2 linked regions of the Homo sapiens genome follow. The protein of the gene in region 1 purifies or fractionates together with the protein of each later gene. This does not show direct contact. Each region holds a gene or a part of one and is shown on either strand. Other genes may lie near its edges.

Region 1 (3,743 bases):
GAATGTGAAGGCCTAGGACATTACCATGTACTACTGTACAACTTACAGACACTCTACGGTTAGGCTACACTAAATTTATCTTTAGATATATTTTTTCAATAATAAATCAACCTTAGCTTACTGTATCTTTTCTATTTTATAAACTTTTTGGCTCTTTTGTAATAACGTTTAACTTAAAACACAAACACATTTTAAAGCTATAGAAAAGAAATTTTATATTCTTATTCTATAAGCTTTTTTCTATTTTTTTTTTAACTTTTGTTAAAAACTAAGATACAAACGCATTACCCTAGGCCTACACAGGGTCAAGATCAAGACGTCGCTAGGCGGCAGGAATTTTTCAGCTCCATTACAACCTTATGGAGCCACCGTTGCAAATGCGGTCTGTCCTTGACCTAAACGTCGTTATGAGGCACGTGACCGTATTTTGATTCTGTAACCTAAAACATATCCTTCTGAAAAACAGTATTTCTAACCAATATATATGAAAATGTCTGTCTCAAAACATTTCTCTGTGTCTCATGGTAAATCTGCCACGAGTTCAATTAGCCAATTCCTGGCAAGGAATCCACAGGTTTTCCCTTCTTTAGGAATGTCAACCATTTTGCCTTTTATTTTTTTCTGTAAGATTCAATTATGATGCACTAAGAGGCTGGGCCAAGTCCACACTAACAGCAATTCCTCCGACCCTGCAGCTGAAACCCCGGCAGAACTACGCCCCCTCGAACACAATGCCTAGATCCCCTTTCCCTGGCTCGGTTTAGCTGGTGGGGAGCAGTCCACATCACACCCCGGGGAGCTGGGCGGTGGCAGGACTTTACCAGAACTCTCTCCTTCCCATTTCTCCACGCACCACACCACTGGAGGCGCTCTCCCTTCACTGCGGTTGGGTCAATGTGGACGTTTTCCACTCGGCCAGCTCCCCACGAGCACAGGAGGAGGGGGAGGGGAAGCGCAAAGGGGCCACCCACGCCAGCCAGGAGGTGAGGAGGGAGCCCGGGGCAGAATGCAGGCCAACAGACCCGCAGCAAAACTGCACCTTTTCCAAAGGAGCAACCCAGACGGGTAGACAAAAGCACCTCCTAAAAATATCTGGGTGCCAAGGCCTTTCCTTCCTCACCTCGAAGCCCAACCAACCCGATAAATCCACAACCCTGGCTCTCGGGTATATACCCGGCTCCTACTACGGGTGGGTGCCTAACTTCCGAGAATCCGTACGCTGGGCATCACACAGGGTGAAAGTGGGAGCCGGGAGCGGTGCACGTGTTCCCCGAAACCAAGACGGACAATAAGAACAAACCCGGGCTCCAAGGGCCGCCCCACCCTTCTCCCCGCGCTTCCAACCAGACGGGGCGCCATCGCCCCGAAGTCCGCAGACAAAGCGCCCTCGGGGCGGAGAGGAGGGACCAGCCCAAAGCATCTGGGGCTGCACACAAAAGAGGGAGGGGCGCGAGGGGCGGCGCGAAGCGAGAGGTCGCGGCACTCACCCACTGAGCCCGAGGAGCCCCTGCGCTTGGGCGCGGCCGGGGTGGAGGGGGGCGCGGCGGGAGCCGGGGCTGGCGGGGTCCACACGGGCTCTGCCTGGGGGCTCACGCTGGCCGGGGGAGGAGGGGGAGGCCGGGCCGGAGGCTCGTCGTCCTCAGGGAGCTTGGAGGGCGAGACTGCGGCAGCAGACAGCGGGGATGGCGCGGGCACGGTCGACGACACCGGGCTCGGGTCCCAAGACGGCTGCCGCTCCGGGGCGACGGGGGGAGCGGCCGGCAGGGGTCCCCGGGGCGCCGGCGGCACGAAGTCATTTCCGAAGTCCATCAGGGGCGCGCCGGCGGCAGGGGCGGTGGGCACTGGGGCCGCGGACAGCCCGGCGGCGGGCTTCCTCTCCAGCACCTCCAGCTCCTCCAGGTCTTCGTCCTCGTCCTCCTCTTCCTCCTCCTCTTCTTCCTCCTCGTCCTCGGGCTCCCTCACGAACTGGTACTTGAACGCGGGCTGCGGCCGGGGTGGGCTGTCCGAGGACGAGACCAGAGGAGACTGGTCCAGGTCTTCCATGGCTGGAGGGTGGAGATGATGCTGCAGCTGCTGCCGCCGCCGCCGGGGCCGCGTCTCAGAGCCGCGGGCGGTTGTGGGGGTTGGGGAGGACTGAGAGGGGCTGGGCCGACTGAGCCGAGGGACCTACTGTGGTGACGGCTCCCGGAACAATGAGACTGCTCCTCCTGCCTCCGCGCCGGTGATGCGCCACCCGCCCTGTCCCCACTTGCCGCCGCCGCCCAGATGAGCTAGGAGTGAGGCCAGCGGACTCTCCGCCCAGTTTGGCGTGACTCACCCTCCCCAGGGGAGGGCAGGGACTGGCGCGGGAGGGAGAGAGCCAATCGGCTACAGGATCGAGAAGATAGGCGACCAGCCGGGCCAACAGAAAGGGAAGGAGATGAAAGTGGGTGGGGACTACGGCACTTCCTCTCTCTTACCGGCTGGGATTGCGTTCAATGGGCGGGGCTGAGAGCTGGGAGCTCCACCCCCACTTTGGGTAACCGTGAGTTGGGGTGGGGTCTTGGCCTTGCCCGCAGCTGGCGTCCGTATGTCGTTAGAGCACTGGGAAAGGGGGCGGGCTGCTGGCTGGGAGGGGTCGGCGCGGTTTCTGGCGCGCCACCGGAAGGGCGTTATCCTGGGGGAACTGAGAGTGGAAACTTTCCTCCCGGGAAAGGAAGAAACCCGACTGGAGAAAGGTATTAGCGGGACTGGGAAGTGGGCCCTAAGGATTTTTAAAGATTTTTGAAATAAAAGATTATTTGTTCACTCAAAGTTCCAAACTACATCACTACTACTACCACCCTAAAATAAGAAAAAAATTGTTTTTTGACAGTTAGGCTCACTCAGTCTAAACCGCAGCCCCCGAAATTGGGAGGAAAACAGCTGTGCTGAATTAACTAGGGATCTGGGGCCGACCATTTGAAAGTCTGCTCTTCTTCCAAAGAGAGTTTGGGGCCTTGCCTGCTGGACTCTTACATGGTAAGAGAGTGAGTCACCCAAAGAGAGAGGCAGCGGGGAGACAGGAAAGTGGAAATACAAAGATGCCTTGGAAAGCTAATTTGGTTCACGTTACATTTCAGTCACCTTAGGTTCATGAGTCAACATTTCGGATGATTCAGGCTTTCTGGGAGTCAGGAAGCCCCATAGTCATTGGTTTGATATGCAGGAATAAGCATGATCCCCATTCCACTTTTTATGAGGCTGGAGAGTTTAAAGAGAGTAGTTGCAGAACATCTTTGTAAGAATCAGGATCCTTTTATCTTTCTGATTTACCTTTCAAAAATATTCACTGCATGCCTACTCTGGAGGCCCTGGAGAGAAGAGGATAACCTGCTTTCAAGTTGCTCAAAGTCTAAATCTGTGCTGTACCTGACAGGTACTGGCTACTTGTGGCTACTGATTGAACACTCGGAATGTATGTAGCTAGGCTGAAATTAGATGTGCTGTAAGTGTAAAATGCGCACTGGATTTCAAGAATTAGTACCTCCGAAATGTAAAATATCTCAGCTTTCCTGTTGACTGAATGTTGAAATTGATATTTTGGATATATTGGGATAAGTATAATATTATTAAATTAATTTTACTTGTTCCTTTTAAAGCAGCTTCTAGAGTTTTTTAAATACATAATGGCTCACATTATATTTCTTTTGGACAGTGCTAGTCTAGATTAATAATTAAGAAAGTTTGATTGCCATGGGGAATCACTGGCAAATTCTTAGCTC
Region 2 (3,743 bases), on another chromosome or scaffold:
AATCCAACCACCAGCTGGAAGGTATGGAACACCACCAAAAACAGCAGGGAAGGGTTGGGTGGAGACCAGGGGAAGCTTTAGAGACACAGGCAGGACATTTCAACAATAAAGGAGGCAGATGCTTTCTGGGGAAAAATGGGCCGGGTGTTGCATGGAGGTTGGGGTGATGCCCACAGGTTCACCCTGGCCAAGGTTGCCTGGGGTCTGAACATCCCGAAGTTCTGGGTTGGGCCACACTTTCCTTAGCAACCACCCAAGCCAAGAGGCCTTTTGCCTGGATCCCCAAGGAGGAGACTCCAGGTCCTCCCCAAGGAGGGAGGACCCAGGTGCCCTCCAAGTGGCAGATGCCAGGCATAGAGGTAGAGGTGGAGGTGGAGGAGCACTGGGCTGATTCCTCCTGTGCCAGCCTCCCCACGCCTAGCGGGTCACAGTTGACAGGAGAGCTGCCCTCTGCAGCCGCAGCCTCCACATGTCCACACAGACTCAAGCCTCCAGCCTCACCATGGTCAACTTTTGAGAAACTGGGGAGAGGAGGTGGCCTGGGGGGAAGGGAAGGTGGCTCTAGGCCAGCCCAGGAGTGACAGCAGCAGAGTGGACTTTGAAACCCCATGGAGCAGGCTCCTTCCGGCGGCAGCGTTGTGGGACGGTGGCCAAGACTAGTTTGCATTTCCCCATCTGTGAAATGGGGCAAACAGCACTGACACCGCAAAGTGTGAGGTCCCCAGCACAGCTTGCAGGGTCAGTGGGAGCCTGGCCTTGATGGGAGCCTGGCCCACTGAGCATTGGGAGGATGCCCCCGTGTCATCCGGGTTCTGTTCCTTGTTGCTAAACGTGCAAAACCCTCTGACATAGTGACATCGCACACACACACACGTTCAGTCGCAGTCAGTGACATCGCCCATTCACATACTCCCGTACACACACACACACCCCATCACACGTTTCCATGCCCGCCCTTCACACCCACGGTCACACTCACACACACATTCACTCTCAAGCCATTCACACGCTCGCTCACACACTCACACTCAGCGGCACACACGCTCACAACCACGGGTCCCTCCAGCAGCCAAGGCCCCACGGCGGCCAGGGCAGGGCCCAGGTGCCCCCGGGTGCTGGGCTCTGGCGCGCCCCCCGGGCAGGAGGGCTGGGTCCCCGCTGCAGACTGCCAGGGCGTAAGTAGCGGTCACCACGTAGCTCGCCCAGGCCCTTGTGGGGTGGGGTGGGGCGCGGCGGGCTGGGCGGGCGAAGTGGGTGCGGCCGGGTGCGGCCCGGGTCCCGCGTCACCTCCCGCAGGCCAGCCCGCCCCCTCGCCGCCGGGTCCCAGTCCCTCGCGACGCCCCGCGGCCCCGGCGCCCCCTCCCCGCCTACCGTGCTGAGCTGGGCCCCCATGGTGGCCCCGCGCCGCGCTCGCTCTGTCGCCGCCGCCGCCGCCGCCGAGACCGTCGCGCCCGGGCCCGCGTCACTCCGGAGCAGGGGCGGGGCCGAGGGGCCAGGCGGGCGCGCGGGGCGGGGCGGGCGCGGGGGCGGGGACCGGGTCGCTCCGCCTGCTTCTGCCGGGGATGGAGACTGGGAACTGGGGATGCGGCCCTCTGCGCTCCGAGCTCTCCCGCCGCTGTGCTGCCCCGCGCGGGACGGTGGCCTCTCTGGGCCTCGTTCGCCGCCATAAAGGAAGCAAGATGGCGCCCCCCGGATGGGAGCGAGAATAAGAGGCGGAATCTTCCCCCGGCCTCCGAGACTGCAGGGGCCGGTCCTGCCTGGCCTGGCCTGGGCCTGTGCCTGCAGCTGCTCAGCGCGGCCCTTCCCCGGGCCTTTGAATTTGTAGTTCCCTGGGCAGCACTGTTCCCAGCTGCCTCGGGCCGGGTTAAATGCTGCGGTCTCAGCACGGCCCGCCCGGAGCCTCCTCGCCGGCGGCGCCTCCGCTCCCCACGCCATTGTCCCACTGTGGAGTGATCTTTGTCCCACTTAGCTGAAGGCCTCCTGCGTGTTTCCCCCACTCCCACCCCATCCCAGTGGACTGTGCGCTCCCGGAGGGCAAGGCCCTATCTGGTTTGAAGTCCCGTACATCCCCAGAGCCTAGCCACACAGAGCCTAGCATATAGTAGGTGCTCAATAAATACCTTTTTTTTTTTTTTTTTTTTTGGTAAAGCAGGGTCTCACTCTTGCCCAGACTGGAATGCAGGAGCCTGATCACAGCTCACTTTAGCCTCAACCTCCCAGGCTCAAGTGTTCCTCCTGCCTCAACCTCCTGAGTAGCTGGGCACATGCCACCACGTCCGGCTAATTGTTTTTTTTTTTGAGACGCAGTTTCGCTCTTGTTGCCCAGGCTGGTATGCATTGACGCGATCTCGGCTCACCGCAAACTCCGCCTCCAGGGTTCAACAGATCCTCCTGCCTCAGCCTCCCGAAATTACAGGCATGTGCCACCACATCTGGCTAACCAGCTAATCTTTTTTTTTTTTTTTTTTTTTTTTTTTTTGAGACAGAGTCTCGCCCTGTCCCCCAGGCTGGAATGCAGTGGCGCCATTTCGGCTCAATGCAAGCTCCGCCTCCAGGGTTCACGCCATTCTCAGCCTCCCGAGTAGCTGGCACTACAGGCACCCCACCGCGCCCGGCTAATTTTTTGTATTTTCAGTAGGGACGGGGTTTCACCGTGTTAGCGAGGATGGTCTCGATCTCCTGACCTCGTGATCCGCCCGCCTCGGCCTCCCAAAGTGCTGGGATTACAGGCGTGAGCCACCGCGCCCGGCCTAATTTTGTATTTTTAGTAGAGACGGTGTTTCAACATGTTGGTGAGGCTGGTCTCGAACTTCCGACCTCAGGTGATCCACCTGCCTCGGCTTCCCAAAGTGCCGGGATTACAGGTGGGAACTACCGCGCCCGGCCATTTTTGCATTTTTTTGTAGAGACGGGTTTCACTATGTTGCCCAGGCTGGTCCGGAACTCCTGGGTTCAAGCCATCCTCCCACCTTGGCCTCCCAAAGTGCTGGGATTATAAGCGTGAGCCACGATGAGCAGCCTAAATACTTGTTGAATGGATGAATTTGACAGACAGTGGGCACCTTCTCTGTGTAGGCTCATGCTGGGCCTTAGCGTCATTCTCTTGCCTTGCTCTCCTGGTAGGGTCTTGGACCCAGATGTGAGCTCCTGGTGCTCTGAGGGGATGGGGTGGGCTGTGTGTTCAGGCAACGTGGCACAGACCAGGCAGAGAAAGGGAGAAGCGCCTTGCTGGCAGGGCCTGGAGGTGGAGACAGGTGAACAGAGGCCTGATGGGCAAGGTTAGAGGGGCTGATACAGCCGAGCTGGGGTGTGATGTGACGTTGGGGAGGCAATGTGGAGCCCCGGGTGGAAAGAACTGGAATGTCAAGGAGAATGGGGAGCCCTGCAGGATCTAGGTAGCTGAGGGAGTGACTCACTGGGTTTATTTACCCAGAGAAGAGATCTCGCTCTGATGCCCAGGCTGGAGTGTAGTGATGCAGTCACAGCTCACTGCAGCTCAAGCCATCCTCCCACCACAGCCTCCCGGAGCACTGGGATTACAGGCATGAGCCACCATGCCCGTCTGCCTACCCACCCACCTGACCTACTGTTTTTTTTGTTTGTTTGGTTGGTTGGTTGGTTTTTCTTTTTTGAGACGGAGTCTTGCTCTGTTGCCAGGCTCACTGCAATCGCGGCTCACTGCAACCTCCGGGGTTCAAGCGATTCTCCTGCCTCAGCTTCCCTAGTGGCTGGGACTACAGGTG

The links. Proteins that work in one complex are often made in the same cells at the same time.
Region 2: the proteins of RTN4 (region 1) and CYB5R3 purify together in Homo sapiens (affinity purification with mass spectrometry; 5 studies listed by BioGRID and IntAct, with this or other methods). This does not show direct contact.

The regions. Positions count from the first base shown.
Region 1 is NC_000002.12:55,048,258-55,052,000, forward strand, and holds the start of RTN4 (reticulon-4), read right to left. Parts: upstream 2,195-3,743; 5' UTR 2,044-2,194; coding exon 1,488-2,043; intron 1,435-1,487; exon of another isoform or gene 1,301-1,434; intron 900-1,300; exon of another isoform or gene 822-899; intron 410-821; exon of another isoform or gene 289-409; intron 1-288. UniProt on the Homo sapiens protein: Required to induce the formation and stabilization of endoplasmic reticulum (ER) tubules. They regulate membrane morphogenesis in the ER by promoting tubular ER production.
Region 2 is NC_000022.11:42,647,924-42,651,666, forward strand, and holds the start of CYB5R3 (NADH-cytochrome b5 reductase 3), read right to left. Parts: upstream 1,470-3,743; 5' UTR 1,393-1,469; coding exon 1,372-1,392; intron 1-1,371. UniProt on the Homo sapiens protein: Catalyzes the reduction of two molecules of cytochrome b5 using NADH as the electron donor.